Linked DNA regions of Homo sapiens. The protein of the gene in region 2 interacts with the protein of the main gene of each other region in a biochemical or structural test. Each region holds a gene or a part of one and is shown on either strand. Other genes may lie near its edges. The genes, in order: HERC5 and STK38.

Evidence for each region.
Region 1: the proteins of STK38 (region 2) and HERC5 form a complex in vitro, tested with the Homo sapiens proteins (one study listed by BioGRID).

Annotation. Positions count from the first base shown.
Region 1 is NC_000004.12:88,454,129-88,470,010, reverse strand, and holds the start of HERC5 (E3 ISG15--protein ligase HERC5), read right to left. Parts: upstream 12,893-15,882; 5' UTR 12,742-12,892; coding exon 12,477-12,741; intron 10,665-12,476; coding exon 10,541-10,664; intron 9,917-10,540; coding exon 9,840-9,916; intron 7,877-9,839; coding exon 7,655-7,876; intron 6,480-7,654; coding exon 6,388-6,479; intron 6,157-6,387; coding exon 6,026-6,156; intron 2,953-6,025; coding exon 2,807-2,952; intron 2,381-2,806; exon of another isoform or gene 2,305-2,380; intron 1,666-2,304; coding exon 1,589-1,665; intron 855-1,588; coding exon 751-854; intron 1-750.
Region 2 is NC_000006.12:36,518,347-36,534,228, forward strand, and holds part of STK38 (serine/threonine-protein kinase 38), read right to left. Parts: intron 7,297-15,882; coding exon 7,245-7,296; intron 6,118-7,244; coding exon 5,995-6,117; intron 3,472-5,994; coding exon 3,388-3,471; intron 1-3,387. UniProt on the Homo sapiens protein: Serine/threonine-protein kinase that acts as a negative regulator of MAP3K1/2 signaling. Converts MAP3K2 from its phosphorylated form to its non-phosphorylated form and inhibits autophosphorylation of MAP3K2.

The DNA.
Region 1 (15,882 bases), on a different chromosome or scaffold from region 2:
CAAATTGTTCAGCTAAGAATAACAGGTACACAAACTAATGGTTCCAGGATCAAATGGGACTGGGAAACACTATAGACTCTATTTTCTGGCCAGAGAGTCACAATATACATAAACAGAGGCCTGGAGAAGCCCTACAGTAAAGAAAGCTGTCCTCATGGCGCTTACATGCTAGTTGTGATGGGTTAGTTTTATATGTCAACTTGGCTAGGCCATGGTACCAAGATATTTGGTCAAATATTATTCTGGATGTTTCTATGAAAGTATTTTTTTAGATGAGATTAACATTTAAAATGGTAAACTGAGTAAAGCACTTGAACAAGTGAATAAAAAGAAAGGACCTTCCATAATGTGAGTGAGCCTCATCCAGTTGAAGGCCTTAAGAGAAAAGGCTGAGGTCACCCAAAGAAGAGGAAATTCTGCTTTTAGATTGCCTTCAGACTTGAGCTGCAACATCAACTCCTCCCCAAGTCTCCAGCCTGCTGGCCTGCCCTACAGATTTTGGACTTGCCAGCCCCTACAATCTCATAAGCCAATTCCTTAAAATAATCTCTCTCTCTCCCCTCCATAGATACATAGATGGACAGACAGACATGATAGAGATAAAGATAGAGACAGAAATACACACATATCCTATGAGTTTGTTTCTCTGGAAAACCCTGACTACAAAATCTCATATTGCTGTGCAGAACCAGTTTGGGAAATGATACTTGAGAGTGATATATAAGCAGAGAGTCAGACTGTGGGGTGTACCTTTTTGTGCTCTGCCACCGTTTAGTCTCCACATCAGCAATCCATCTCTTTACAGTCCCTTCATTCAGAGTAGGAATTGTCCTCTTCAGATTAACATATGAATTCTGTAAACAAACAGGAAAGTAAAATACAATAATTTAGACACATCAGAGATAGGCACCCAACTTTTAGGTACACTCTAGAGAGTAAAACTGACTTTTAAATATGTGTAATACAGCCCTGGGACAATCACAAAGTGATACTCAACAAATAAGTAATCAATCATTTGCCTGGTTGCCACTTTCTTGTCCAAGGGGGCTTAGACTGAAAGTAAATTTCTTTGAGGACTCAACACTCAGCACTTTATACAAATACAATCAAATTAAACTGAACATCAGACAGCCTTGAAGGGAAGGGAAGATCCTGAAAGAGCTGTGTGCAGAAGTGTGAGGAACTCGATTTCACTTGGTGAAGTAGGGCAGGGAAGTTATGGACTTTTTATTTGCAAGCCCATGAACCTTGGTGTCTTTCTTAGTACTGGCCTGCAAAGTCATTTTTAGAATCTGTCACTCTGTTGTTTGCAAGGATACTGACCAAACATCATTGGCAAGTAGCCCCCAAAAGGTAAGTATAGCCTATGGAAATCACACTGATTAGACATTCACCAGAGAAAAATCTGCTGATTTTTGTGGGAAAATACTGATGTAGTTTAGACAATAAAGGATCAGTAATGTCCAGCTATCCCCCAAAAAGTCAGCCTGGTAAACTGATGATTTTGGAATTCACCAAACTGGGATACTAGAACCCTTAGTTTTGCTTAAAATACCAGGTTATAGAACACCTGGAGATCTATTTTTACCTCTTTCTTTATCCAGAGCAAAATGCTTTGATTCCCTCCAGCAATCATTATTAACTCCTTTTCTGAGGTATGGCTTTCTGAAAGGATGCACAAAGAGTAAGAGTTTTAGAAAGTCATTTGGCACAAACATGCATGTTCAATTTAAATAACTTCAGATTCTTCTTAAACGTAGTCATCTTTTCTTCTTAATAGACAAAACTTAGTACATTTTCTGCCAATTAAGCAGCTGAAATACATATCCTTTGGAGTAAAGTCTAGTTGGCAAACATAGGTAATTCACAAGGTGGACATGTGACATCAGTTTAATATACATAATACAAATATTTATATATAAAATGCAAATATTTGATTAGCTAAATGTTATCAGTTTAATTCAACTCCCATTACTAAAAACCATGTTTTCAAGATTTAAGCAATGACTGCTGGCTATAAAGAATATAAGTACTTTAAGCCCATGTAACTGTTATAAGGAATCAAAGATAATACATGCTGCTTAAGGAAATAACTCTGTTCGTTTTCCTACAAGAAATGAGTAGATTTTGTTACTTGAGGTCACCACTAAGCTTTCAGAAACAAGTAACAGAAATGCTCCAAGGTGCTTCTACAATGGAGTGTTTCAGAGCTCAGACTCTGAGGTCATAAAGGGCACGGGTTCAACTCCAGACAAACCACTTACTGGCCATGATTAAGTGGCTAACCCTTTTCTCTCCAAGTCTCTTTATCCTCCAGTAAAAGAGGAGTGACAGAATACACCTCCCAGGAACTGTTACAAGGATTGGTGAGATAACACAAGTAAGTGCTGAGCACAGTTCAGTGCCAGGTATACGTTGATTGCTCATTATTCTGAGGGTTTTATATGACTGTGGATCAACTTAACCAGGGCAACCAGCCAATTACAAGAATTAGTAAACAACTAATTACAAGAATTAGTAAGTCTCTTGCAAACTGGAATGAGAGCTGCATATGCCTCTGAATCCATTGTCTATTTTATCATTTAAATTCACATTAATCCTAATCTGAAGGAGTAATATAGAATAATTATTTTGCCTCAGTAAATTAGACTGACTCTTGAATTGTTTACCAGTAAAAAATGAAACCAGTATTTAGAGAAACTCCCTTCATAGTCATATGTTGCTTTCTTTGCCACATTACCTAGTTAGAAAAATCATTTTCTCTAAAAAGATACTATGCCAAACCCTATGTTCCTATAGAATTTACCAAGTTTGAGTTCTTCACTTGATGATACTTTCACTGGAAGCGGCATCAGCTGGTCACGTGTTCCACCATTTCCCAGTTGTCCATCTTTTCCAGAACCAAAGGAAAAGACCTTTCCCAAATCAGAAACATAGGCAAGTGTGTGCCACCTATTAAATAAAAGCACATATGGTCAATTCTTAATTATCCACAATGATGAGAGTGTTTAGCAATACAGTAAATTGCCAAAACTATGTTACCCAGTGAGAGTGAAACTAAACATCTCTTAGAGGATGAAAATCATCTGGAAACCAAGAAATCAACATGTACCTGAAAAGACTTTGGAACCCAAAGGCCACTCAAGACCATGATGTCATACTTTGGCAAATGGTGTTCCCTTTGTTGAAACAAGCACCTCCCCTTGCCCTCTGCTCATTTTTCAACATCAGTTTGAGTCACCACCTCTTGGAAACCATCTCTGAGTCCCTTCACTTTCCATCCTGGAAGACTCAGTTGAGTTCCCACTTAATTTCTCAAAGACCTTTACCACACTGATTTTCCTATTGATTTGCTGGTTTGTATATTCCACTATACTGTTGTGTAGCAAGGAATCTGCCTTGCCCAGAGAGGTCTGGCTGGTGCCCTGTTCCTAGGAGGTAACCTCTAAACCCACAGAATTCCCCAAGTGATAGAGGAGAGTCTTTATTATTCATGGCAGGATCCTGGGAGAGCTCTCCTGGCCTGTGATGTAAATCAGACCTACAGGAGGGCAGTGCTGGAGATTAAGTTTAACTATCCGGGCAATGATTTAACCAATCATGCCTCAGCAATAAAACCCCTCAATTTAGGTGGGGTGTGGTGGCTCATGCCTGTAATCCCAGCACTTTGGGAGGCCAAGGCAGTAGGATACTTTGAACCCAGAAGTTTAAGACCAGCCTGGCCAATATAAGGAGACCCTATCTCTACAACAAATTTAAAAATTAGCTGGGCATGGTGGACCTGTGGTCCCAGCTACTCAGGAGGCTGAGGCAGGAGGATTGCTTGAGCCTGGGAGGTCAAGGCTGCAGTAAGCCATGATAGCACCACTGCAGTCCAGCCTGGGTGACAGAGTGAGACCTTGTCTCAAAAAAAAAAAAAAACCACCAAACCAAAAACAACTCTTGACTTGGTCTTGACTTGGGTGAACTCCTCTGACTAGATGGCAGATTATGTACATCCTGTACCCTGTCTCCAAAATAAAAAAACCAGAAAAAACAAAAACAACTCTCAACTTGGGTGAATTTCTCTGATTGGCTGGCAAATTCTGTATGTCCTGTCACATTATCAGGCCAGAAGAGATAACACCATCCACCTGCTCCAAGGGGAGGTGACAGCCACAAGCTCAGCATTTGCAGCCCTCCTATACCCTGCCCTTATGTGTCTTCCTTTGACTGGTACTAGTTTGTATCCTTTTCTTGTAATAAATGTGACTATGAGCATAATAGCTTTTAGTAAGTTCGTGAGTCTTTCCAGTGAATTGTCCTGTTAGTAGGGGTATTGCCCTGATGTGCATTAAGACAGATCTCCAACTTGCCTCCTTCTCTTGTAATACATGCTACTCAAAAGGACTGTATGTAATGAAGAATCCAAAGAGGTGATAAGACTGCTTTGGTTAAGAGATACCGAATGAGGTATAAATATTGAAGAGAACGCTTCTTTGGTGAAGAGACTCATATTCCGATAATTTGGTCTACCTTAATAATATTACCCATTTATGTAATTCTACTCCAAGATCATAAGAAAATATGCCTACAGACTGAAAGTATTCATGCTAGTTTTTTATAAGAATGGTTTCAGTAAACTAACAAATGAACCCAGCATTCAAATACAGTCTGAATTTTGCTCTACGTTTAGTGAGGGAAAAACTGCCCAAAAGAATAAGTGTATATGGGGGAAAATATTTTTTAATCCTACCAACTTCCAACATCCCTCTGGCAAGACGTGGACTGATATATCTGATAATCAAAAAAATTAAATAGTGGCGTGGTGGCTCACCCCTGTAATCCCAACACTCTGAGGGGTCAAGGCGAGCAGATCACCTGAGGTCAGGAGTTCAAGACCAGCCTGGCCAACACGGTGAAACCCCGACTCTACTAAAAATACAAAAATTAGCCGGTTGTGGCCAGGTGCAGTGGCTCATGCCTGTAATCCCAGCACTTTGGGAGGCCGAGGCAGGTGGATCACAAGGTCAGGACATCGAGACCATCCTGGCTAACACAGTGAAACCCCGTCTTTACTAAAAATACAAAAAATTAGCCAGGCGTGGTGGCGGGCGCCTGTAGTCCCAGCTACTCCGGAGGCTGAGGCAGAAGAATGGTGTGAACCCAGGAGGCGGAGCTTGCAGTGAGCCGAGATTGCGCCACCGCACTCCAGCCTTTGCAGCAGAGCGAGACTCCGTCTCAAAAAAAAATAATAAATAAATAAAATTTAAAAATTAGCCAGTTGTGGCAGTGCACGCCTGTAATCCTAGCTATTCCAGAGGCTGAGGTGGGAGAATAACCTGAGCCTGGGAGGCGGAGGTTGCAGTGAGCTGAGATTGCGTCACTGCACTCCAGCCTGGGCAACAAAGCAATACTCTGCCTCAAAAAAAAAAACCAAAAACCAAAAAACAAACAAACAAACAAACAAGAAAACCAAAAAACCTTTAAATAAACTAAGGAGTCTGAGCAAGACATTTTACCTTTCTTTTCTAAAAAGGAGCTGTGAAAATTAAACTTCTTAGGAATATTTCACTCAAACCATCACTGACTATGTCTTATACTTTACTGTGATCAGGGCAGGCTACAATGAAAGAACTCTGGTAATTAAAAAGTATGTTGGCCACAAGGCATTGTCAGAGAGGGTGATTACATTTAATGAATAATCCTTTGTGATTTACATTTTATTTTTCCCAAATAAACAATTAATGACTTGTTTTTTTAAGACAAAAGTGCACCTGAATAGTTACAAAGGTATTTCACTAAGGAGACAGCAGAAAGTGAATTGTATCTGCTCATTTAAAAAAAAAAAAAAAAAAAAAAATCAAAGAAAACAACCATGTATAGTAAAAGGGGTATTACATTTATCTAAATAATATAAATTAAGCATTTTCACTGATTTGAAAATGTTTGATACATCTCAAAGAAACTGAAAGAAATTTTATTAAATTACTATCTAGTTTGCTGCACTCATTTTATCAATTCTTATTGATACTTTACAACTTACCTTCCACATGCTATCTGAGTCACTCTATACCCAACAAGCTCAGCCACCAAACAGGGTCTTAGCTCATTCTGTGTTGAATTATGACCAAGTTGCCCATGTTTTCCAGCACCGAAAGTAAACAGCAGCCCATCCTAAGGAAAGGGAATGTCATATCAGATGCTAGAAAAATAAAATAAAAAAGTAGTATTCACTGATGCAAAGTGAATCACTAATAAATAGCACTGTCAAAGTAAAGCTCCTAAATATCAGAAGGACAGTCCTACATACAGGAAGTGATGACCTTTCTTCTCTGGGAAACACTAACTTCCCATACAAACTGTTCTTCTAAAAATACAGCCAAAAAGAGACAAGGGTACACCCACCTGTGTGAGTAGGGCACTGTGAGAGCCACCACAAGCGACAAATTCAACTTTCTGATTGTCTAGTCCTTCAATAAGGGATGGATCATCTTTACCTATGTAAGGAAAAAAATAGCTGAAGTGACCAAAAGGAAATGCTGAGTTTCACAGTGGAGTTACCTGGACTGCTGCTTCTCAACCCAGCGACAACAGTTCTCATGATATTCTGACAAGAAAGGCTCTATGTTGCCATGTTTAGGATCAAGTTCTACGCCTCAGGGTGAAGGTGGGACCAGTGGCCAAAAGGATCACACTTAGGGGCACCCACCTGTGAAAGGGTCAAACCACTTCCCAAAGCCTGTTCTCAGTTATGACTTGATTCACTTTAATTGCAGCACATTAGATATTTCCAACAGCCATCTAGAATTACTTTTAATGAACATAGCAATTCCTTTCTTTCAAATTATCTACTAGTGTCATCACCTGACACTACCTCTTCTTTTCTTCATGATTATTTTCATGTCAAAAGCACTCAGAGATTCAGCCAAAGTAGTTTAATGGCCGCTTTATTCTCTTCTCTCCTTTGAATATTTTTCTAACACTGACTTATGGGCTATTCTGTGTAATGACCATTGCACTGTGTCAGGGAGAAATGAGTAACCAGTGATCCAGGGTAATGCATACAGTACCACAGCTGGGTAAAGCAGCAGAATTTCTTACACCTGAAAACTCTTAATGAGTTGTTTGGGATCATGAGAAATTTCACCATCAGCTTTGTTCAATAATGGAAATTACATGTTTCTTCATGTGTGTTTACAGACATAATTGATACCTTATAGAATAAGATCAGGATATGTGAGTTCTTAAATATAATTTTAGTATTCTTTTGTAATAATACACTAACAGACTTTAAGTGCAAAGGCTTTAAAGGTCATCTCATCCAAACTTGTCACTTGACAGAAAAAGAAAATGAGGTCTAGAGAAAAGTTTAGTGACTGGGCAAGGCTTGCAGTTAGTAAACTGCAAAGTGGGAATCAGAATCCAGGTTCTCATCCCTAATTCAATGCCCTTTCCCGTCTCACACACAGCCCTGAAACATGTCTCAATTACAGTAACAACTTCCACACTATGTATGCCTCTTGGACTGATTCTGCCCTGAAGACAGAGAGGTAATCAGGAAGAGCAGTGAAAATGAAAGTGAAGATTTGAACCATTTTTGACAGGGAGGTCCATTAAATTCATCTAACAAGTATATCTGTTGGTAATAGGAATCTGAGAATGTGTTCCATACTCTCAGTGTGGCCCAGGCCTAGTTGTCCACATTCATTTTTTCCCCATGAATAAATGTTGCCAGACATGGATAAGGCCATGCTGTGGGCTTCTCCGGCAGAAATCTGAGCCAAGGGTACTCCTGCGAGGTGCTCCACAATCTGTGGTGTGGTGGTTGAGGGAAATTTCCTTCCAACTCCAAGCTGCCCATGCAGGTTCTGTCCCCAGGCAAAAAGCTCACCACCTTGACATAAACAAAGCAAATGCTGTTTTATTCCATTTAAAATGCAGCAGACATTACCCTAAAGCATTATGCATGCTCTACCTAGTATAATATCACAATATTGTACCTTTGCACTGATGGTACTCTCAGTTACCCTATGTCTGCCACAGAAAAACACAGAATCTTCTCTTTAGCAGTGACAGTTACACTTCCTTATCCCTCACTTCAAAAGTGAAGCTATTTGAACATATTAAATAATATCTTCAACATAATAAATTTGATTATAAATCAAATTCAAGAAATATTTACTTTAAAACACTCAGAGGACGGGCCCATGAAAAACAGAAGCAATCTACCTCTATGAAAAACCCCAGCGCTACTGTTTTCTCTCATGTGCCTAATGATCCCAAATAAACAACTGTAAAATTCATTTGAAATTACAAGATCCCAAATAAACAACTGTAAAATTAATTTCAAATTACAGTTTCTTGAACGAGTCAGTTTCTTCTTCCATTAACTGAATATATGGAGCACATTTTTTAGGGAGCGTTCTTAGATGTTATCTGATAGAGCTGACAATATCTAATAGAGTCTAAAAAAATACACCAGAGAATTAAGGTTTACTGGAATCTCTTTGCAAGATATTGTGCAGGATGTGGTGGGAAGCAGAGCCTCTCCTTCACACACAATTTTCATGCACCTGTCAACCACCAGGAATATAATGATGAGCATGACCAGTTTCTTTTCTTGCTTCCCCAACTTTTATTCTTTCTGTACTGTGATTTACTAGTAATAAACTCTGAATATCCCTTTACCCTTGTACATACACGCCTCTAGACCCTGGGCTTCTTAAAGGCAGGGCTTGTGTGTTTCATCTTCATAATCCGAACACAGTAGATAATATGAAATATTTGTTCATGAATGAATGAAGTCAAATGATCAATTTCTTCCAATACAAGTTCATACTATCAAATCTCAACAGGCCTTGCAATGAAGGTCAAATACTCACTAATTATTAACTTCCCTTGAATCCCAGATTCTATTCAGTTTATGAACATGTTTACATCTGTCCTATATATTAACAAAAATTCCCTTGACTTCGAATTCCCCTCTATTACCCTACTTCTATCTTAATTATTCCATTCACAGTAAGTTTCTTTTTTTTTGAGACAGGGTCTCGCTCAGTTACCCAGGCTGTAGTGCAGTGGCACGATCATGGCTCACTGCAGCCTCAAACTCCTGGGCTCAAGGGATCCTCCTGCCTCACCCTCCCAAGTAGCTGGGACTACAGGTGGAAGCCACCATGCCCAGCTAATTTTTAAGTTTTTTTGTAAAGATGAAGTCTCCCCATGTTGTCCAGGCTGGTCTCAAACTCCTGGCTACAAGTGATCCTCCCACCTCAGCCTCCCAAAGTGCTGGGATTATAGGCATTAGCCACCAAGCCTGGCCTCATAGTCAAGTTTCTTTAGGAAATAATTCATATTCACTGCTTCCATTTCCCACCATGACAGTGTCTGATAGAAAATGGGAAATACTACAGGGCTAGGGAGATCCTTGAATTCAAAAGCAATGTTAAAACGTATCAGAGGTCTGCAGCCTGGCCACAAAAGGGGATTCTGAGCCGGAAGAGTGGAAGTTGGAAAGGTGTTAGGAAAAGGGAAGCAGTTTCTGGAAAAGGGTGGCCCCAGGCCTGGATCAGATGTAGAGAAAACAGTTTTGATTATTCAGAAAATTTTCACTGTTTCGTACTTGAAAAATAAAAACATGAAACCAAATTTAGGAATAGTAATTTTGGAAACCTGAACATTTTACAGATCCAAGAATTCTCTCATTATGTATTTACTTTAAGAATCGTACTCGGAACCATATCAAATTCAAAACTGTATTTCTGTCCTGTTACAAGTGAAATATAGACATTCTACTGGCTCCACATATACACACAGGTATTACTTCTACAAAACTATTAATATTACAGAAAAATTACCTTTTGAGAGTGCAAGAGAATGGTAATCTCCACATGTGATCTGAATTATTTTTTTTTCTTGTAAAATGCTTTCAAACCTGATGAAGGAAAATACACTTTGTGTTAATCACCATAATGAAAGTTACAACATGGATTTTAGAACTATTAATAGTATTTAATTAGAAATGAAGCTCAAGAAAAAACTTTCAATTTACTGCATCACATTCAGTACATCTAAAATTATTTTTTAAATACTATGTTTTAATTAAGAAAAAATATGCATTACATAATTATAATAAAATATTATGCAAACAATTTTAGGATGCAGGAATAAATGCAAGATGAAAATGAGTTCTAATTCATATAATCTACTAGGGAAAAGTCTCACAAATTATTTCATGATAATGTGTATTTTTTCTAGGTTAAAAACTTTTATTTCCAGAAATTTAACTTATAGGATTATTGTGAGGATCAAATGAGTTAATGAATAGGAAAGTCCAATTTAGGGCTAGGCAGACTATTTAATCATTTCCTTTAAATGCCAAAACAACACATGATACCTGCCCTGGGGGACATAAGGACTTTACTGGTCAGTTCAGAATTTATTATTTACTTAAGATGCTACTATATAAAGCAGGGGACAAGAATCAGATATTTCCTACAGAAATTATTATTGTCTTTTGATTAAAATTAATTTTTAATAAAAGAAAAAAGTTCCCTACCTTAGATGTTTCATGCTATAGTTGTCATACTCAAATGGTTTTCCATCTGATGAGAGAATCAGCATGTGCTCTGCTCCTTGGTCCACGGAATGTATCTTCATGTTTTTTCCTAATTTAATGCATTCTACAGAGCAAATCCAACCAGGAACTATTGTCACTTTGATTATTACCCACTGTATTACTAACTTCATTATAATACACTTAAAACATCTGGGAAAAATTTCAACTAGACAAGCTTTGACTTACCATGAACTTCTCTTAAGAAAATTCAGGTAGGCAAAGCAAATCAGGAAAGACAACGGTCTTGACATAGATTTTTTTTAATTAGAAAAAATATTGATGTATACTTTGTTGTAAATGGAACATACCCTTAAAATATCCAATTAAATATCTGCTTTTAGGTTCTTGTTTATTAAGACGAACGAAATTTGAAATGACAAAGATGAAAAGGTCTATAAGAAAATATAACTTTAAGACAACATAATCTCATTTCAAGAACAAATAGTGTATTCTGAAACACATTCCTTTCTCCCAAAAAGCAAATAACAGTAATAAACACTTCCCGACAGTTACCAATAGAAACCAATGCCTATATTCTTAAAAGGAAGGATTATGTTTGGGGGACTATCTTTAAAGAGGATGCTGTTGAAAACATTTTTCATTGGCATTAGTGCACATTTGGCCCTTTCTGAAGTTAAGAGATTAAACTGTCCACTAGTAAAAATGTACTCTTATTTAATTTGTTCACAAAAATTAAACTAGGATAGTTTTGGGACCTTGTTTCATCTTCAGTGCTAATGAAATAGAATCTATTCGTGTAAAAATCTCAAAGCACAAACCATATTACAAATGCTAGGGGAACCAAAACAGTTTGGTAATAAGAAATGGTCCAGCAGACTAACGGTTTCTTTTAAAGAGTCTCAGCATTTCAAATCAGTTGAAAAAAAGGAAGTATTAAGAAATGGTATTGGGACATAGGCTAAGCCTTTGGAAAAGCAAATAAATCTAGCTCCCCTCCTACCTCAGTACTGAAAATTCCAAGCGTACGAAAAATTTTAACTTAAAAAAAAAAACCTTAAAATTACTACAAAAATGAGTACATTTTTTAAAACACTGGGAGTGTGGATAGCTTTCCAGCCTAACATAAAACCCATAAGCCTTAACAGACAAAAAAATTGACAGACTACCCCCCAAAAAATGCACTAAAAACAACATGCACAAAAGGCAAAGTGAGAAAAATATTACATGTACGACGTGCAAAAGGCTATTCTTATTCAATATTCAAATACCTCTTCCATACAAATAAGAAAAAGATTTAACAACTCAAATTTCTAAAAGCCAGGCAAAGATAAACAGGCAATTTACCGAAAAAGGAACGCAAACGTCCAGTAGTTAAACGCAAAATAAACTCGCAGCAAGATACCAATTTCTTCACTCCACAGATGGGCAAAATTTTAAAGAACGCGGGCAACTATTTCCCCCACTTCGATGAGAATGTGGGAGAAGTGCAACTGAAGGCCAAGGTAAAATCCCATCACTGAGAACGACTCCCAAAGTTGGAGCAGTGACTACTTTCTCAAAACGAGACAGTGGGAGATGCGGCGGGCGGGGGACGGGGGTACAAACTTGAACAGAAACCTATGAGAAAGCCAGACTGGCTAAAAGGATGAAGACGGTGCCCGCATGCCCCGCACCGGCCACTTTGCTGAGCGGAGGATCCGCTGGTCGCCAGTATCCCGCTCACCCCGCGCCTGACACTGACCGGGATAAAAGACAGCTCAGGTGCGCCGTCGGCGAAACTATCCGAGCCAGGCGCGCGTCTGCGGCCTTCTGGGCTCTCCTCCCTCAGGCGCGGACCCCCGGCTGCCCGCCCCTCACAGCCCTCAGCCCTCACCCCTCACAGCCCTCACAGCCCTCACACACCAGCCCCACTCACTCGGCGTCCGGGCGCCGCCGCTCCCGGCGAGCAGCTGGTGAACCTGGACGCCCGCCCCGCCGCGTTCCAAGACCGCGAGGCGCCCCGGCGAGCAGCAGAGTTGGCGCGTCACCTCCACCCTCCGGAGCAGCGCGCGGTGGAGGCCCGCGGCGCTGGGAAAGAGCCAGAGCTGTGCGCCCGGAGACTTCGCGGGCTGGGTCGCGGCGGCCTTGCCCGCGGTCGAGCGCCCGTTGCGCCGCGACTTCCTCCGCGACCTCCGCTCCATCGCCGCTTTGCGGGGTCCCAGGCCCAGAGGCGAGAGGAGAGAACGCCTGGTCCCGGGACTGAGCGCGCCCACTGCCTCAGGCGTTGCGCTGCAGAGCGGGAACCAGCTGCGCGCAGCTGCGTGGCGTCGGGGAACCGCAGCCTCAGCTACTGAGCCCCTGCCGGGACGCCACGCCCCCCACGTGCTGTTTGGGGGCGGGGCCTGCAGCTCCAGTGGAAAACGAAACATAATGTTTGTTGTTGTTTTTAGGGGGCGGAATCGAAAAGGAAAAGGAAACTGTAATGAGAGTGACTTGGCAGGCGGCCAAAGGCAACAGGTCGTTGGCTGGGGTAAAGGCCGATGGGCTGGACTGAGAAAGTGTCCCCGGGCGGGCAGCGGCCACCTTAACTCCTGGACGGAATGGCTTTCGAGGAAACGCTGCAGTTCCACTAGGAGGCACCCTGACACACGCATTTCCAGAGGGAGGGATAACGGAAGCCAAAGTTTGTTAAGCGTTGTGCGCCGCGGCCGGGCGCGGTGATTCACGCCTGTAATCCCAGCACTTTGGGGGGCCGAGGCGGGCGGATCACGACGTCAGGAGATCGAGACCATTCTGGCTAACACGGTGAAACCCCGTCTCTACTAAAAATACAAAAACAAAATTAGCTGGGCGTGGTGGCGGGCGCCTGTAGTCCCAGCTACTCGGGAGGCTGAGGTGGGAGAATGGCGGGAACCCGGGAGGCGGAGTTTGCAGTGAGCCGAGATTGCGCCACTGCACTCCAGCCTGGGCGACAGAGCGAGACTATGTATCAAAAAAAAAAATGCGTTGTGCGCCGGGCTGAAACCGGCATAAAACTGGGCAGAGCTATGCAGGCAGCTACCCTCCCCCCCACCCCTACCCCCACCCCCACCCCCCTCGTGCCCGCTCCGCTACGTATTCCCGTATTCCCGGGTGCCTGGCAACAGTGATGTGCTTTAGGCCTTTTTTAGAATGCATACAAACGGAACCATATCTAAGTGATGTCTGGCTTTTTTAACTTAGCACAATGCTTTGAGATTCATACTATTGTGTTTAATTAGTAATTCATTTGTGTTATTGTTGAATGGTAGTCTATCATATGGGTAAGCCACAGTTTATTTATCCATTCACCAATTGATGGGCCTGTCGGTTGTAGGGAACAGGAGAAAACTTCCCCTTTGCCCTCTGAAGGGTCACCGAAAATCAACTGACAAGGCTGGGCCTGGGCTCCTGCCTGTAACCCCAGCCCTTTTTTAGCCCAAGGCAGGAGGATCTCTTCTTTGTGAAGTGTGTATTCAAATCTTTTGACCATTTATTTATTAGCTAGCTTGACTTTTTATCTAAGAGTTCTTTATATATTATTGAGTTCTTTATATGTTTCATACCATGTTCTTTATTAGCTATACGTTTTGAAATGTTTTCTACCTGTCTGTGGCTTGCCTCTTCATTTTAAGTGTCTTTTGAAGCACTGAAGTTTTCAATTTTGATGTAATTTATCCATTTTTTTCTTTTACATAGTTCATACCTTTTTTGTCCTACTTAAGACATTTTTGCTAAATTCAAGATTATAAGATTTCCTCATTTGTTACCTTCTGGAAGTTTTATAATTGTTGGTCTTCATTATATTTAAAATGAATTATTCTTTATAGTATCGATAGATGCTGGAGGCAGATAAGGGAGGGTCCCTGGAGAATCTCTGACCTGCCTCACAAGCTTTTGTGCAGCTGAGGAAGCCTGCCCAGGGTCTTGTCTGGGCATGCCCACAAGGGACTTGGGGGCCCACTGCACCAGGAGAGTGGGGTGCAGCCAGAGGGAATTCAGCCTTATGCAGCAGGGATGAGCAAGAAGTCTTCAGCTTGTGTGTGTTGGCCTGTTATTCAGTCTGTGAGCTGGGAGCCTGTTGGCAGGACCCTCCTTGTTTTTTTGCTAAGAGCTTTTAATAAATGCCACTCTTCACCTTGCAATGTATTCACATGCCTAATTGTTCCTGGTCATGAGACAAGAACCTGGATTTTAGCTGAGCTAAGGAGCAAAAATTCCTGCATCAGTATGAGGTAAGAATAAAGGTTCTTTTTTTTCCTTATGGATTTCCAGTCGTTCCAGCTTGCCTATCCCCATGGAATTGCCTTGGCATCCCTGTCAAAACTCAGCTGGCCGTATATTATAACCTCAGAGCCAGCCCAAACTGGCCCTACTCTGTTGATAACAAAATGGCCAGTTACCCTGTAGGTATAACAGAGCCAAAACTGCAAGTTATGTAGACTGGGCATGTGCCATGGAAAAAGCTTTGACCTCTAACAATGAAACGGGAAAGGTTCCCTTGTCCCCTTCGTAGGGCATGCGGCAGTGGGAGTGGGTCGCTTCTTCAGTGCCCCACTGCTCACACCTCTAGGGGAGCATACAGACAGGCAGGTTTTGGGGCTCCAACCCCACGCCAGTGTCTAGGGGTGGATGTTTACTGCTCCTGAAGCACCAGTGGGCTGTGCTACTGTGTGCTTTTTTAGTTTTGCTGTCTATAGGCACTTGTGTTAACCAGCTCAATTAGACCCTCTACCTTGTCACAAGGACAGAAGACTTTCTGTATCCCAGGTTCTTGCCTTGGTGTACCAGAAGAATTGTATCACATGTGGGCTTAGAGAATGAGTGCACGGTTTTATTGAGTGGAAGTAGCTCTCAGCAGATGGGGGAGCCAGAAGGGAGTTGGTTTTCCCCTGGAGTTGAGCCGCTCAGCGGCCCAGGCTGTCCTCCGACTGCCCTGGCCAAACTCCGCATTGTTCTGCTGGTCGATGGCCTGCCAGTGCTAGTGCCTTTAGAATGGTACTTGCCACACAGTACCTACTATAAGTAATTATTCAATGAATTAATGAATCCCTTAACATTCAGATTTTTCAAATAAATTATTCAGCACTTTGCTAAAATAAAAACTCTAGAGATATTCCTGAATATAAAATATATATCTAGCAAGGTTAGGGATATAGGAAATGTTGCTTTACATAACATTGTTTTATTAAAAATATTATTCTTGGCTCACACCTGTAATCCCAGCACTTGGGAGGCAAGGCAGGAGAATTTCTTAAGCCCAGGATTTCAAGACCAGCCTGGGCAACATAGTGAGACCTCGTCTCTTAAAAAAAAATTATTCT
Region 2 (15,882 bases):
CAAGAACACCTATGAAAAGTTGTAGATTCAAATTAATGACATTTCCAATTTTATACTTTTACTGAAATACCTATAAAGGACCAAGTTGTAGAAAGTTTCAGAGAACCGGAATTATTTTGTTAAAGCAATGCTTTATTATCAAATTTACCTTATTTACTTTAAATGCAGAACAGTAATCAAACATCACTGCATATTATCAAATCCCCCCCACACACACTTTTTTTAAAACAAGATGGGGTCTCGCTCTGTCACTCCGGCTAGAGTGCAGTGGCGTGATCATAGCTCACTGAAGCCTCAAACTCCTGGTCTAAAGTGATCCTCCTGCCTCAGCCTCCTAAGTAGCTAGGATTATAGGTGTGTGCCACCATGCCTGGCCCCTCCCCTCTTTTTTAAGTGTCACAAGGTCTAAATTGGGTTGATTCAGATCTAAATTTATTAAGACTCAGTCCAATCCCTGAATAGTGGTTTTGGTCTTAACATATGCTACAGGTCTTGACTTTTTACAACATGTTCTGAAGTAAAACATGTACCAAGGTTCACAAATTGGCAAATTTAGTCCATGGCTGTTGGCAAATTTAGTCCATGGCTGTTGTTTGGTTTAATACAATGTTTGATATGATGCTTGTTTTATTGACATGTCTTTAGGGAGACAAGGCACTCTTCCATTACTCTTCCATTTCAACACCCTCTCCCCTGGTCTTATATCTAACTTGCTTCAGGCTTCTATGCTAACTCTTGGAGGCCCAGAGGCATTTGACTTTATGTATTTGAGTTTTCAGTATCTACTAAAATCATTCTTTGGGGAATTTTTTTAAAAGCTGCAACTGTACAGAAAACCTACATCTTTACATCTGTACTTATGGTATTGGGGTGGGAAAAAATGGACAATAAGGGTGAAAAGAAACAGTGCTATGAAACACAATGAAACCAAGTAAAGCATCTGCCTTTACTTGACCTTAATACAGAAGCAAAGCTTTTGGGAAACAGTAACATTGCTTGCTGCCCCACAGCCATGGCTAGGACCCAGTCACTACAAGACATTAATACAGTAGAAGGCAGCCTTCATCTGCCTGTCTCCCCTGGCTCCCATTAAGCTCCCTACCTACTGCAGGGAGCCAGAGAAAAGGAGAGGCACTACAATTACCACTTGTCACTCACCCTGGAGGACACAATGGTGCCCATAACATTTCCTGTTTGTCAAGGGGAAAGCTACCATGAGCACACCTTGCCTTTCTCTTGAGGCTGAAACAGTAGCAAGAAACCTCATGGTTTGAAAGTGGAGTTGGCTGAATATAGATTAAGGGAGGGAAGAGTCTGAGGTGCAATTTATACAAAAAGGTTCTCTTTCCCCTATTCCATAAATATTTAATAAGGTGGGGGGTGCTAGTTGCTATCCTGTGCCCTAAGAAAGCAGAAATAAAAGCCAGTTTTTTGTCCCATCAATAACTGTATACTGGCATCACAACTGAAGGTTTTCCTTTTGCACTGGAAGAGAAACATCAGAAGCTAGTTAGATGTCATGTCTTACCCTTTAAATTTTTCCAGGTAGCAAAAATTTCCACCACGTGGAGCAGAAAAATAACCTGAACTCTCAGTGGGTAGCTTTAATTCCTACCCAGTTTATTTAGTAAAAGCAAACAAAAAAACAATTTTGCCTCTGTACCTCTACTTTGTCAGCCCTACCCCAAAATGGTGATGAATTTGCACTGGTCTACTTCCATCTTTTATCTAGCACAAAACCAATGCATGCTTCTTCAAGATGGCTAAGCCAGGTAGAGTCTGTGGCCAGAGACTTTAACTGGCTCATAATGAGATCTGTTAAGTTGAGGAGTTGAGTTCTCAGCTAAGGTGAGCTAAACAATTTAAGTTAATGTACCATTTAATCCATAAGTTAATGCATCATTTAAAATGTTAATTCTAATAGTTTCTTTACTTTCATTTAGGAAAGTTTTAGAAAGTGATTTTGAAGGCACAATATTTGCGAAAAGGCTTTTTACACATTATGTCTGGATCATCCTCTGTTAGAAACCATGCGGGGCACCTGGTATACATAAAATTACTAACTGAAAATCATATGTACTTTGTTTTGCAGTATTACTCTGACAGTTAATATTTAATAAAAAGAGGTCTTAAGCCTTGGTTAAAACTGTAGGAAACATACCTTGCAAAAACAAAACTTACTCATGAGATGCAAACATACTAATTAATGCAGAAGCTTTATATTTTCCTTCTCAAGATTAACTGAAACTTTTTCAGTGCCTACACACCCATACCACACACTAATTTGTAGATAGTATGTAAGTAGGCCGGCCTACTATGAATTTTGAAAAAGGTTGGCGTTAGCATAAACTATAGTGTCTCAAGACTTACCGCCCAGGTATTTGATACTCCCAACTGAAATTCCTGGGAGTCTAAAGCTTCTCGGTAACACATGAAAATTTGAGAGAAAATAAAAATTCCAAATTTTGGGGTGGCATTTAAATGAAGACAGGGAAGACCAGTGATTATATCTCCTCTCAAGAGGTAGAAAGGATTGGATGTGGGGCCAATCTCCATCCCCCCTCTTTGGCCCTAAATTAGGAGTTCTCCTTGTCACAGGGTCTCCATGTTCCTATAACATCAAATCTTTTACAGGACATTTGCGGTCATCACCCACTGCAATCTTTTCTTAAGCAACCAGCTACATTAAACTAGATTTATAGAAAGTCTATTCTTGCTTTTTAAAATATACTTTCCAATATTTAAAACCTTATTTATTTTGCATAAGGCACTTTATAAATTGATTTGCAAACCAGGTTTTGGTTTTAGAAAGTATCCTTTATCATTAAAGGAGAATTTGCATTGTTCTGTCATTTGCATTGTATTTTTCAAATTCATTCAGAAATTAGAAGGCTGGTCTTTTTCAGGTACCGATGAGCTACCTAGAAGACTCAACTTTGGTTTAGGTAAACAGAATGAAGCATATAAAGACACATTTTAGATTATAAATTCCAAATTCTAATTCCTAGTCCTTAGTTATGAGATATATATACAATTTCTATTTCTCAGCATTTGGTAAGAAACACACTACCACACCACGTACGACCTCAAAAAAAAAAGGCTCTCACAATAAGGACATCTTGTGATCAATTGGAAGACACAAGTAAGAGCTGCTTTTGGAACAGATTTTCAATTTTTAAAAGATTGCATATAACCTACAGGCATTATTTGTGATTTTAAATATGAACTGCTTCTTTGTAGGGGGAAAAAGGTAGTATTATATATATAGTCATACATGACAGAGCTAAAGAAAACTGTAATAAAAATATATATTTCAATTAAACAAAAAGAAAAGTTTTAGGAGACAAAAATTAATAAGCTAAAAGCACTGCTACAACTGTGCTTTACCTGCTCTTTTTCAAGCATATCTGCTTTACGGAGTATTTTCATTGCATACACATGTCCCGTATCTTTCTTCTGAACAAGCCGTACCTAAAAAGTTATAAAAGAAATGCCAAGTCAAAAACTCGTACTACCAACCTAATGCTTTCATGTGTTATAGGATGCAATAATTAACTGAAAAAGTATTACAATTTTAACATGAGCAACTAGTAATAACAAAGCAGAAGAAAATGCTTTTCAGTGTTCCAAAATGAATACATTACACACAGTAAAGTCGATGCTGGAAACATCCTCAAATACCTCTACATCTGAACAGCTTTGGTTCCTTAGTTGAACAAGCCAATCTAATTTAAAACCTTCAATTTCAAATTTAAGGACTCGTTACACCTCTGACACATGTCATCCAGTCAGCTCAGAAAATCTAAGTAAATGATTACAATGATGTTTAATTAAAACAAAAGTAGCTGTGCATGGTGGTGTATACCTGTAGTCCCAGCTATTTGGGAGGTTGAGGTAGGAGGATCGCTTGAGCTCAGGAGTTATGAGCTATGGTGCATTATGCTGATCAGGTGTCTGAACTAAGTTCAGCATAATATGGTGACCTCCCAGGAGCAGGGTGGCAGAGGGGGGGCCCACCAGGTTGCCTAAGGAAGGGCAAACAGGCCCAGTTCAGAAATGGAGCAGGTCAAAACTCCCATGCCAATCAGTAGTGAGATCGTGCCTGTAAACAGCCACTGCACTCCAGCCTGGGCAACACAGTGAAACCTTGTCACTTAATCATAATAATAATAACAAAGTAAAACTTCATGCTTAGGAAAAACGTCTGGAAAGAAAAACAAAAAATTCAGGCCAGGCGCGGTAGCTCACACCTATAATCTCAGCACTTTGGAAGGCCGAAGCAGGTGGATCACCTGAGGTCCAGGAGTTCGAGACCAGCCTGGCCAACCTGGTGAAACCCCGTCTACTAAAAATACGAAAATTAGCTGGGTGTGGTGGCAGGTGCCTGTAATCCCAGTTATTCGGGAGGCTAAGGCAGTAGAATCACTTGAACCCGAGAGGCGGAGGTTGCAGTGAGCCAAGATCAAGCCATTGCACTCCAGCCTGGGCAACAGAGCAAGACTCTGTCTCAAAAAAAAAAAAAAAAAAAAAAAGAAGAAGAAGAAAATTCAAAATGTGTAATTAGGGAAATTGTGTTTTATGTAGTTTTCCTTCTCTTTTATGTTTTCCAATGTTCTTAAAGAAAACAGATAATTTTATGAAGAAAATTTACAACCAAAAGAAAAATTTCACTGCAAGTTCCTGCATGTCCTCCCCTCTTCTCCCAAAATAAGTAGGTTTTCTTCTCCCTGAACCTTTCTTCATGTTTTTCCTAATTGAGTACCACAACCCTTCCTTGCCAAACAGAAAGCTCTTTCAGAGGTGGTACTATACTTTTCCCTCTTTCAAGAAGCCAATAGGAATTCTGAACACTGAGGGATCAATCTATCACCTGTGCCTCTGAATACTATTCACATTTCCCCGGGGTACCAGGTTTTTTGTTTTTTTTTTTTTTTGAGATGGAGTCTTGCTCTGTCACCCAGGCTGGAGTGCAATGGTGCAATCTCGGCTCACTGCAACCTCTGCCTCCTGGGTTCAAGCAATTCTCCTGCCTCAGCCTCCTGAGTAGCTGGGATTACAGGCACGTGCCACCACACCCGGCTAATTTTTCTATTTTTAGTAGAGACAAGGTTTCACCATGTTGTCAGGCTGGTCTCGAACTCCTGACCTTGTGATCCGCCCGCCTTGGCCTCCCAAAGTGCTGAGATTACAGGAGTGAGCCACCGTGCCTGGCCCCGGGGTACCAGGTTTTAATAATATACTGCTCCTTTTATACTTGCAATTATTGCGTCAGTAGGTCATCCAGTTTGGGCATTTTTCATTAACAGGAATGACCTTGCATGGGCTCTTTCAAGCTCTCCCCAACAGATTGCTCTTGTGCCCAAGCAGGATCATTTCCAAGAATTGCGGGGACAAAGTCGCAAATGCTTTCAACTCTCCACCACTACCTATATAACTCCTTTCTGTAAATCCTCCCTCCTAGGGTCATCTTTTTAGAGCTGTATCAATCTGGTGGGGAGAAATAAAGGGTGGAGATACACTATTAGTTTCCTTCTCGAGAGGCAGTGCAGTACTGGGAAAAGCAAGCTCTTTGAGTTCAGGAAGTAGAGCCCAACTTTTGGTCCCAGTACTCAATGGCTGTGTGATAACAAGAGACATTATATATACCTTTAGAGTCTTAATTTCACCATCTATAAAATGGGTTACTGTCCTGATTATGGGAAAAAAGCAGCCTGTAAATAATAAATGTTGATTTCCTTCTACCTTTCAACTCTCCCCCTAAGTCAATATTTAAACACCAACACCATCTCTGGCAAAACAGAGAACAGAGATCTGGGACTGCGGAGAGAAGAAAAAGAGAAAGCAGACAGACAAAGCAATTAGGATGTGGGGCTGGCATGCCTGACTCATTTAATTCCATATATTTGTTATATCAACAATCATGACTTAATGGTATGTTAGAAGCTTTGAAGTTTTGCAATATTTTTCTACTTGACAAGTAGCTGTGATTTTTACCTCACCAAATGCTCCTCTGCCTATTACTTTTAAGGACTCAAAATCTTCCAATCCAAGTCTTGTTCTCTTCAAACGAAGAAACTCTGTTTCCTTCCGAGCATGTGCTGATCTCCGGAGTCGTTTCTAATATTTAAATAAAAAAGGGAGGAGACGGGAAGGAACTGAAATTCTGAAACTCTGTAACAAGTCATGTTTGTGACTTACCCAGCTAGAAAACAGGTCCAAGTGGACTAAGGATAATCTTTTCACATATGAAATCACCCCAGAAGGATCCTTAAGAGGTCACTTCTCCCTTTCCTGGCATTTAGACACAACATCCAAGCCACACTGAACAGATGGGTGCCTCCTCTGGGAACTCTGACTAACCTACTTCAGCAATCCACTATCCTAACATTTTTGGTGAAGGGAGGGATAAATAATCAACAATATTTTCCTTTATCCTGTTTAATATAAATTAAAAATGTGTTCTTATCTTTCCCTCTGGCTTAAACACTGTATACTCTAACTTTCTGTTATTTCTACAAGTATTGGGTATTTTTCACCACCGTCCTGGGTTCTGCAAGCCAGTCCTATTTTTGAAGGCATTTCCACTACCATTTCAGTTCCTTGCACAGTCCCTTGTTAACTATATTTTCTCCTACTGTATCTGTGGGCACTGGGTGGAAGGGCTGATTTGAGATGGATATTTTGCCTTAATAAAGATTTCAGGAACATGACACACCGGGGCCTGTCGGGGCATGGGGGGAAAGGGAGGGAGAGCATTAGGACAAATACCTCATGCATGCGGAGCTTAAAACCTAGATGACAGGTTGATAGGTGCAGCAAACCACTATGGCACATATATACCTATGTAATAAACCTGCATGTTCAGCACACGTATGTATCCCAGAAAAAGTAAAATAAATAAATATTTCAAAAATTTGCCCTACTCCTACGGAGACTTTTCAGTGAATTCTATAAAAATGCTACAACTTGCTCTTTTAAAATTTAATTTGATTTCATCCCTGCTTTCTCTTGGAATTCTAAATCTAGTTTACTATAACTGCATCTAGAGAAGCCTTCCTCTCCTAGGTACTTAATAATTAATCTGTCCCTCTGAATTAACACCCAAATCCGGAAGCACACTACCCCTCAAGTTCCTCTGTTATTGAGCCAAAACCCTTCTCATGTGTACCAAGGCTAACAACTCACTGGACAAGATACAACCTGCCACGCTGGGTTTTAAGGAAAACATTGCCAATATTAATTACCTCCTCATCTTTTAGGCCTTCTTCTTCCATCACCTTTTCTAACTTCTTTTGTCTAAAACAAACAAAAACAAAAGACATGAAATCACATCTGAATGATAACTTTCTGAAAATTCTGTAACTTAATACTGTAGTAGATTTTTAAAAATGACACAAACAGGTAAATCTCAAAATGTCTCATTAAAACAAAAAAAATTAAGTTACTAAGACAAGTAAAAAGATTTCCATCCTTTGTTAGGCCTACTTTTTTTTGGCGGGGGGAGGGGGGCAGGTTGCGAGGAGAGGAGACAGAGTTTTGTTCTGTCACCCAGGCTAGAATGCAGTGGCGCAATCTCAGCTCACTGAAATCTCCACCTCACAGGCTCAAGCAATCCCACCTCAGCCTCCCAAGTAGCTAGGACTACAGGCGCGTGCCACCATACCTGGCTAATTTTTAAATTTTTTGTAGAAATGAGGTCTCATTATATTGCCCAGGCTGGTCTCAAACTCCAGCCTGACCTTCCAAAGTGTTGCGATTACAGGTGTGAGCCACCATGCCCCGCCCTTAGGTCTACATTTTTTAAAAGACTGTCTAAGATGTTAATGCAACAAAGACTCTTGTTTCAAAAAAATGTCCTCTCTTGGTTTTGGGTGTTTTTTTTTTTTTTTTTTTCCAGTTATTTCCTCCTTACCAAACCACAAAACAGCTGGTATTTGATAAACTCTTATATCATGCTGTTTCTTTCCCTCTCTCTGACTGAAGTCTACTTCCTTTATTTCTGCATCTTCCTCCTCTTCCCTGCCATGAGGAAAGGGTAACAAACAACAAAGTTAAAAGCAGAATTTGGAAATTTAAGGGGAAAAAGTGATCAAAAAGGTGACTGGCACCACTATCAAAACTCCATATATCAGGCTGGGTGTGGTAGCTCACGCCTGTGATCCCAGCACTTTGGGAGGTGAGGCAGATGGGTCACTTGAGGTCAGGAGTCCAAGACCAGCCTGGCCAACATGGTGAAACCCCATCTCTACTAAAAATATAAAAATTAGGCCAGGTGCAGTGGCTCACGCCTGTAACCCCAACACTTTGGGAGGCCGAGGCGGGTGGATCACTTGATGTCAGGAGTTCGAGACCAGACTGGCCAACATGGTGAAACCTGGTCTGTACTAAAAATGCAAAAATTAGCCAGGCATGGTGGCATACCCTGTAATCCCAGCTACTTGGGAAGCTGAGACAGGAGAATCACTTGAACCCAGGAGGTGGAGGCTGCAGTGAGCAGAGATCACACCACTCACTGCACTCCAGCCTGGGTGACAGAGTGAGACCCTGTCTCAAAAAAAACAAAAAGGCCGGGCGTGGTGGCTCACGCCTGTAATCCCAGCACTTTGGGAGGCTGAGGAGGGTGGATCATAAATTCAGGAGTTCGAAACCAGCCTGGCCAACATAGTAAAACCCTGTCTCTACTAAAAATACAAAAATCAGCTAGGCGTGGTGGCGAGCGCCTGTAGTCCCAGCTACTCAGGAGGCTGAAGCAGAAGAATTGCCTGAACCTGGGAGGCAGAGGTTGCAGTGAGTCAAGATCACGCCACTGCATGCCAGCCTGGGTGACAGAGCAAGACTCCGTCTCAAAAAAAAAAAAAAAAATATATGTATATATATATATATTTATATGTATATACACATGTATACATATGTATATATGTACACATGTATACATATATACATATACACATATGTATATACGTATATATACACACATATATATACACACACATATATGTAATATATGTATATATATTAGTACACACACACACACACACATATATGTATATAAAAATTAGCTGGGCATAGTGACAGGTGCCTGTAATCCCAGTTACTTGGGAGGGGCTGAGGCACAAGAATCACTTGAACCTGGGAGGCAGAGGTTGCAGTGAGGCGAGAGCACACCAGTGCACTCCAGCTCAGATGTCGGAGTGAGACTCTGCCTCAAAGAAAAAAAAAACCTTCAGACATCAAACTTTTGGAATACTGAACTTTAGAAAGTACATGCAGTAATGTTTTTGATCTATAGTCTCATAAAACTAAAAGAAGCAAGTAAAACTTCCTTACAACCAATTCCACAGAACCTTCATTTATTCAGCACAATAAATGAAAGCACATGGGCTAGAATCTCTCCTCCACCACTCATCAGCATTCCAGATAAACAGGCAATGTGTACAAACAGAGCAAAGAAGGATAAGACTACAGTATGCTGGCCAGGTGCGGTGGCTCACGCCTGTAATCCCAGCACTTTGAGAGGCTGAGGCAGGCAGATCACGAGGTCAGGAGATCGAGACCATCCTGGCTAACACAGAGAAACCCCATCTCTACTAAAAATACAAAAAAAAAAAAAAAATTAGCCAGGTGTAGTGGCCGGCGCCTGTAGTCCCAGCTACTCGGGAGGCTGAGGCAGGAGAATGTTGTGAACCCAGGAGGCGGAGCTTGCAGTGAGCCGAGATCGCACCACTGCACTCTAGCCTCGGTAACAGAGCGAGACTCCATCTCAAAAAAAAAAAAAGAGTGTACAGTATGCTGCAGAAATAGCATGTAGTCCATTGTGGCTGACGCACACAGCACTACAAATGCCACACCAAGAAGGTTGGATCTCATTCTGTAGACAACTGAGTGCTAAAAGAGGCTTGTGTGCAAAGGAGTGATGTGATAAGATTTCTATTTTAGAATGGTAACCAGCAGTAATGAGGATCTGATGGACTGGCAGGGAAAGCAACTGAGAAAGAGGCTAGTTGAGAGTTATTGTAATGATTCAGATGTACAGTAAAGATCTGGAACTAGGGCAGGAAAACTAGAATGAAGTGAATAGAGCTATTGCAAATATGACCAACTGGCAATAGGAGTCAAGAGAAAAACCTTAGAATTTCCTGTCTAGAGGGATATGATGCCACTAATCAAGACAGGAAACAGAGAGAGGAACACGAACAGTTCTCCCAGTTCCCAGAATATTTTGGGATACATGTGCATCTATGCGTGCACATGTATTAGAGAGAAAAGGCTGTACTCTTAGTAGTTTCGGGAGTGTAAATTAATTCCATTGCAAGTGGTTAGGTAGTTGAAGCAGAGAAGAACAAGAAAAGTCAAAGCATAACATGCTAGGCAAAAGCTCTAAGAACACAGCTGTGGTCAGCTCTTTTTGTGCCTTGAGTACTAAACACCATCATACGTCCTGACTACACGTTTTTGAATGACTACATCAGAATGGGCTACCAGTCCAATGCACTATCCACTGTGTCACAAAAGTGGCTCCTTCTAATTATATTTTAAACCTAAATACAAACTAAGAGGTTTTCCACAGGTTTACTGAAGTGTAATTAAATTGGTTGCAGAATACCTGCCTGAGAGTGAAGTTAACTCCTTGAACACAATCAGATTATTTCATTAGAGAAAGTATCCAGAAAAAAAAAGCCTATCCATGATAACAATTAGGACCAGGTCCACAAAGACCTTGAGGACACCAAAAACAGCAAGGACAGCCTGAAATGAGACTTAAAAATGACATCCTCTGTGAGATGACATCAAAGGAATTACTGTTAACTTGGTTAGATTCATGGTGGCATTTGCATTATGCAAGAAAATGGCCATATTTTTGGAAATGCATACTTGACAGTATGTAGGATTAAAATGACAGATGTTTGGAATTTACCTTAAAACACAATAGCAAGAAAAAACAAAATGGGATAGATGAAGAAAATGTACCAAAGCCCTAAAATTATTAAATCTGAGGGATGAATATATTGAAACGGGGTCACTATATTATTCCACCTATGTTTAAAATTGTTCATAATGAAAAAGAATAGCAGGACTCTCCACACAGGCATGTTCTCTGGTAGCAGTGCCAGGTTAACTAACACTCCAGCCCTTGGTGGAGCCACTCTTCCCTTCAATTCCAATGTTCAAAACCAGAACCCTAGGAGAGAGACGAAGCCACTTTCACACTTAGAGGCCATATCCAGCCTCACCCCAGTGATGCCTTCCATGTGTTCCATTTAGTTGCGTGTGTGTTCATTTCTTATATGAGAGAGTGGTAAGTCCTTCTGAAGGCAGGGACTATATCTGAATTCCCTATGTCCACTAAGAATAGTGCTTTGTACACAGCTACTTTCTAAATGTATGCTGCTAAATTTTAAAAAGTCAGAATGTATAGCAATGTGCAGACACATTCATGACTACTACTTACAATTAGCCCCCTTTTCTAATCTAATTTAGGGTCCCCTCTTGGCATAGCCTGATTTGGAGGTAGCAGGGATGAGAGAATAGGGCTATTCCACCCTAATTGAAAACAGACAGTATTTTGGTGAGACACTGAAAACCAGGAAAAATAGTGTATTTAACAGAAATAGGGCCAGGCATGGTGGCTCACACCCGTAATCCCAGCACTTTGGGAGGCTGAGGCTCGCACACCGCCTGAGGCCAGGAGTTGGACACCAGCCTGGCCAACATGGTGAAACCCCATCTCTACTAAAAATACAAAAATTAGCCGGGCGTGGTGGCACGTGCCTGTAATCCCAGCTACTCAGGAGGCTGAGGCAGGAAAATCTCTGGAACCTGGGAGGCAGAGGTTGCAGTGAGCTGAGATCGTGCCACTGCACTCCAGCCTGGGTGACAGAGCGAGATTCTGTCAGAAAGAAAAGAGAAGAGAAGAGGAGCGACAGATCGAGATTCTGTCAGGAAGAGAAGAGGGGAGCGGAGGGGGAGGGGAAAGGGCTGTGATTACATCTCCATGATTAAAATTCAGAAAATGTCTAATAAATACTTTTTTTTTTGAGACAAGAGTCTTACTCTGTCACCCAGGCTGAAGTGCAGTGGTACTATCTCGGCTCACTGCAACCTCTGCCTCCCGGGTACAAGTGATTCTTCTGCCTCAGCCTCCCGGATAGCTGGGATTACAGGTGCCCACCACCACGCCCAGCTAATTTTTGTATTTTTAGGAGAGATGGGGTTTCACCATGTTGGCCAGTCTGGTCTCGAACTCCTGACCTCAAGTGATCCACCCACCTTGGCCTCTCAAAAAGTACAGGGATTACAGGCGTGAGCCACCACACCCGGCCTTTTTCCTTTTTTTCTTTTCTTTTCTTTTTTTTTTTTTTTGGAGACAAGAGTCTAGCTCTGTTACCCAGGCTGGAGTGCATGGCACAATCTCGGCTCACTGCAACCTCTGCTTCCCGGGTTCAGGTGATTCTTGTGCCTCAACCTCCCGAGTAGCTGGGATTACCGGCATATGCCACCATGTGTGGCTAATTTTTGTACTTTTAGTAGACACGGGGTTTCATCATGTTGCACAGGCTGGTCTTGAGCCCCTGACCTCAAGTGATCCACCCACCTCGGCCTCCCAAAGTGCTGGGATTACATGTGTGAGCCCCTGTACCCAGCCAGAAATACCCTAAAATTAACACTACACAGATTCTTTAAAATCTCAACAAATTACTTCAGTTCTACACTCTGGTTTGATATCTGGTCAGTGAAGAACATCAGGAGGTCTGGACTTACTCATTCTTGAGGCTTAAATAAAACTGACACTGGATCACTAATAATAATCACATATTTCTACTTAGTATTAGATAAGACCAAATGAGGAATTTCTCCAGTTAAGAAAACATAGATGAGAAAATCTAAGAGGAGTTGCAGAACATAGAAATTCTCAGTAAAATGTATGAAAGACTTTGTTTGATTTGGGAAGAAAAAAGCTTACCATTATTACCTATTAAATTAGGTGTTTATGGTTTTAATTAATCCACCTAACTAGTATTCATGAAGAAAAGAAACAACTGAAAATGTTTTGTAAAAAGAAATGCCGGTTTCTTCAGATTTGATTTCAAACTGCTATGAATTATCTAAAACATTGTTTTTTAATGAAAAAGTAGACAACTGTCAATACCTACTAGGTACCTAGGATCACATACAGAGAGAATACAAAGAGAGCTGCTGCTCCTAGAGAAGGTCACAACCAAAGCTGCCATTGAAGGCAAAACACAGACTGAAGGAATAGAGCAGATGCACTTGCCCTATTGAGTGCTTATGATCTAACAGTGGTATTAACAGGAGACCATCAGGTGGCATTCTGCAGCACTGTGTGATGGACACTAGATTCAGGGGGTTTAATTATTTTTAAACCAATCTGTAGAAGCTACTATATTGTTTCTATGAAACTGCTCAAAATTATCATATTTTATGTTTACACAGGAAACAATTCCCAAATGAATTTTATTCTTTCTTCTATCTCTGGGCTTTGGACACGTATGGCCTTGCAGTAAGCCCTTTGTTTCAACTATAAACTAGTGTTCTTTATGATGGAACAGGGAAAGAGTTGCATAGCAATGCTAGGAATAACAGATATTTTAAAGGTACCTAGACAAGACACAAAATAAAAAAAATGAAAATTTGTATTACAACTTGGTCTCAAAATTTACTAGCCCAATACTTATTATTTCAAACCTCCATCATATATTATCTCTTCATTATCAATTATCTCATATCATCAAAACTGTTTATTTATCAAGGTCCTGCAATGTGTCCCTCCAGAACATCAAAAAGGTTGCAAACTCAGGCCAGGCAATCATGGCTCATGCTTGTAATCCCAACACTCTGGGAGGCTAAGGATGGCTTGAGCCCAGGAGTTTGAGGCGGCAGTGAGCGAGCCATGATCACATCACTGCACTCCAGCCTGGGTGACACAGTGAGACCTTGTCTGCATAAAAAAAAAAAAAAAAAAAGGTTTTAAACCTTGTTTCTCACAATCCAACTTAGTTTACTTCTGAGGTAACTCTTGTCAATCACTTTTTAAAAAATTTTCTAGGAACAATAAAGCCTGAAAGTCTTATTGAGCTGTATCAGTAAATCCAAAACCTACTAGCAGCTCATACAAAAAAGAGGGTACTAGCCGGATGTGATGGCTCACACCTGTAATCCCAGCACTTTGGGAGGCCAAGGCGGGTGGATCACTTGAGGTCAGGAACTCAAGACCAGCCTGGCCAACGTGGTGAAACCCCATCTATACTAAAAATACAAAAATTAGGCCAAGCACAGTGGCTCACACACTCTGGGAAGCTGAGGCGGGCAGATCACCTCAGGTCAGGAATTCAAGACCAGACTGGCCAACATGGTGAAACCCCGCTTCTACTAAAAATACAAAAATTAGCCAGGCATGGTAGTCCATGTCTGCAATCTCAGCTACATGGGAGGCTAAGGCAGGAGAATCACTTGAACCCGGGAGGCAGCAACTGCAGTGAGCCGAGATTATGCCATTGCACTCTAGCCTGGGCAAAAGAGCAAAACTCCGTCTCAAAAACAAAATGAAAATACAAAAATTAGCCCGACATGGTGGCGTGCTCCTGTAATCCCAGCTACTCGGGAGGCTGAGGCAGGAGAATTGCTTGAACCCAGGAGGTTGCAGTGAGCCAAGATGGCGCCACTGCCCTCCAGCCTGTGCAACAGAGTGAGACTCCATCTCAAAAAAAAAAAAAAAAAGGGGTACACAACAAAAAAAGATCTACAAGGATATATTAATTCTGAAAGGCTGAAAGTACTAGTGCATTGTTGTTTTTCTTAAAGAGATGGCGTCTTGTTCAGTTGCCCAAGCTGGAGTGCAGTGGCACAATCATAGCTCACTGCAGCCTCAAACTCCTGAGCTCAAGAGATCCTCCCACCTCAGCCTTCTGAGTAGTTAGAACTACAGGTGCACACCACCACACGTGGCTTACTGTTCTTTAATGAAAAATAATGGCAATTTGATAAGCAACCAAAAACAAACATTCTAACCCTCTTAAATATCTAACATTCTCTTCTGTCTTTTGATTAATTTGGTCTTTCAAAAAAAGCAAAACCACCAATGCTGTATTTTTAAAATTTTGTTTATTTTTATATAACCCTCACTGCTTCTGGAACCACTGAAACTTTTAGAAGGCTTTTCTATCTTAAGAATCCAAAGAATGCAAAGCACTGCTGTCTGCTCATTTTGGGGTATAATCTTAGTGTTAATCACAATGTATCATTTATTAATAATGTAAATAAAACCATACATCATCTTGTTCCTGCAGAACGTGATACATACCAACAATAAACCATAGCTAGGGCAGAACCAGTAGGATAAAACCCAGAGGACTACTACTAAACAAGTGGCTAAATCAAAACTCATAACCATTTGCTTTATAATTACAACCCCAGTAGCTATGATTTCAAGAAGTGACTGTATTTGAAATAACTGTCTCCACAGGTTTCACCTGCCTAAAGATATTCTGAACAGATTTACGTTTGAATTCCCCATGATCCTAACACGGGACACTGTGCAGACACTTGTTTACTCCAGTGAACAGCAGCTAGCCACCACCAAGCATAAAAAATTTGACTATTCCACATACAGAACTGCATATTTAAGGTCAAATTATATATCCCATGTAAATTATCACTTACACCCTCATGAAGAACAGGATTGCAAAGATCCTTATCAAAATATTAGCATATCAACCCAGCAACATAAAGGAGATAATACAATGTCATCAAGAGGGTTTTACCCCTGAAACGTAAAGTTAGTCTAACATTCAAAAATCAGTCCATGTAACTCACCATATTAAAAGAATAAAGGAGAAAAACAATATGACCATTATGGAGATGATG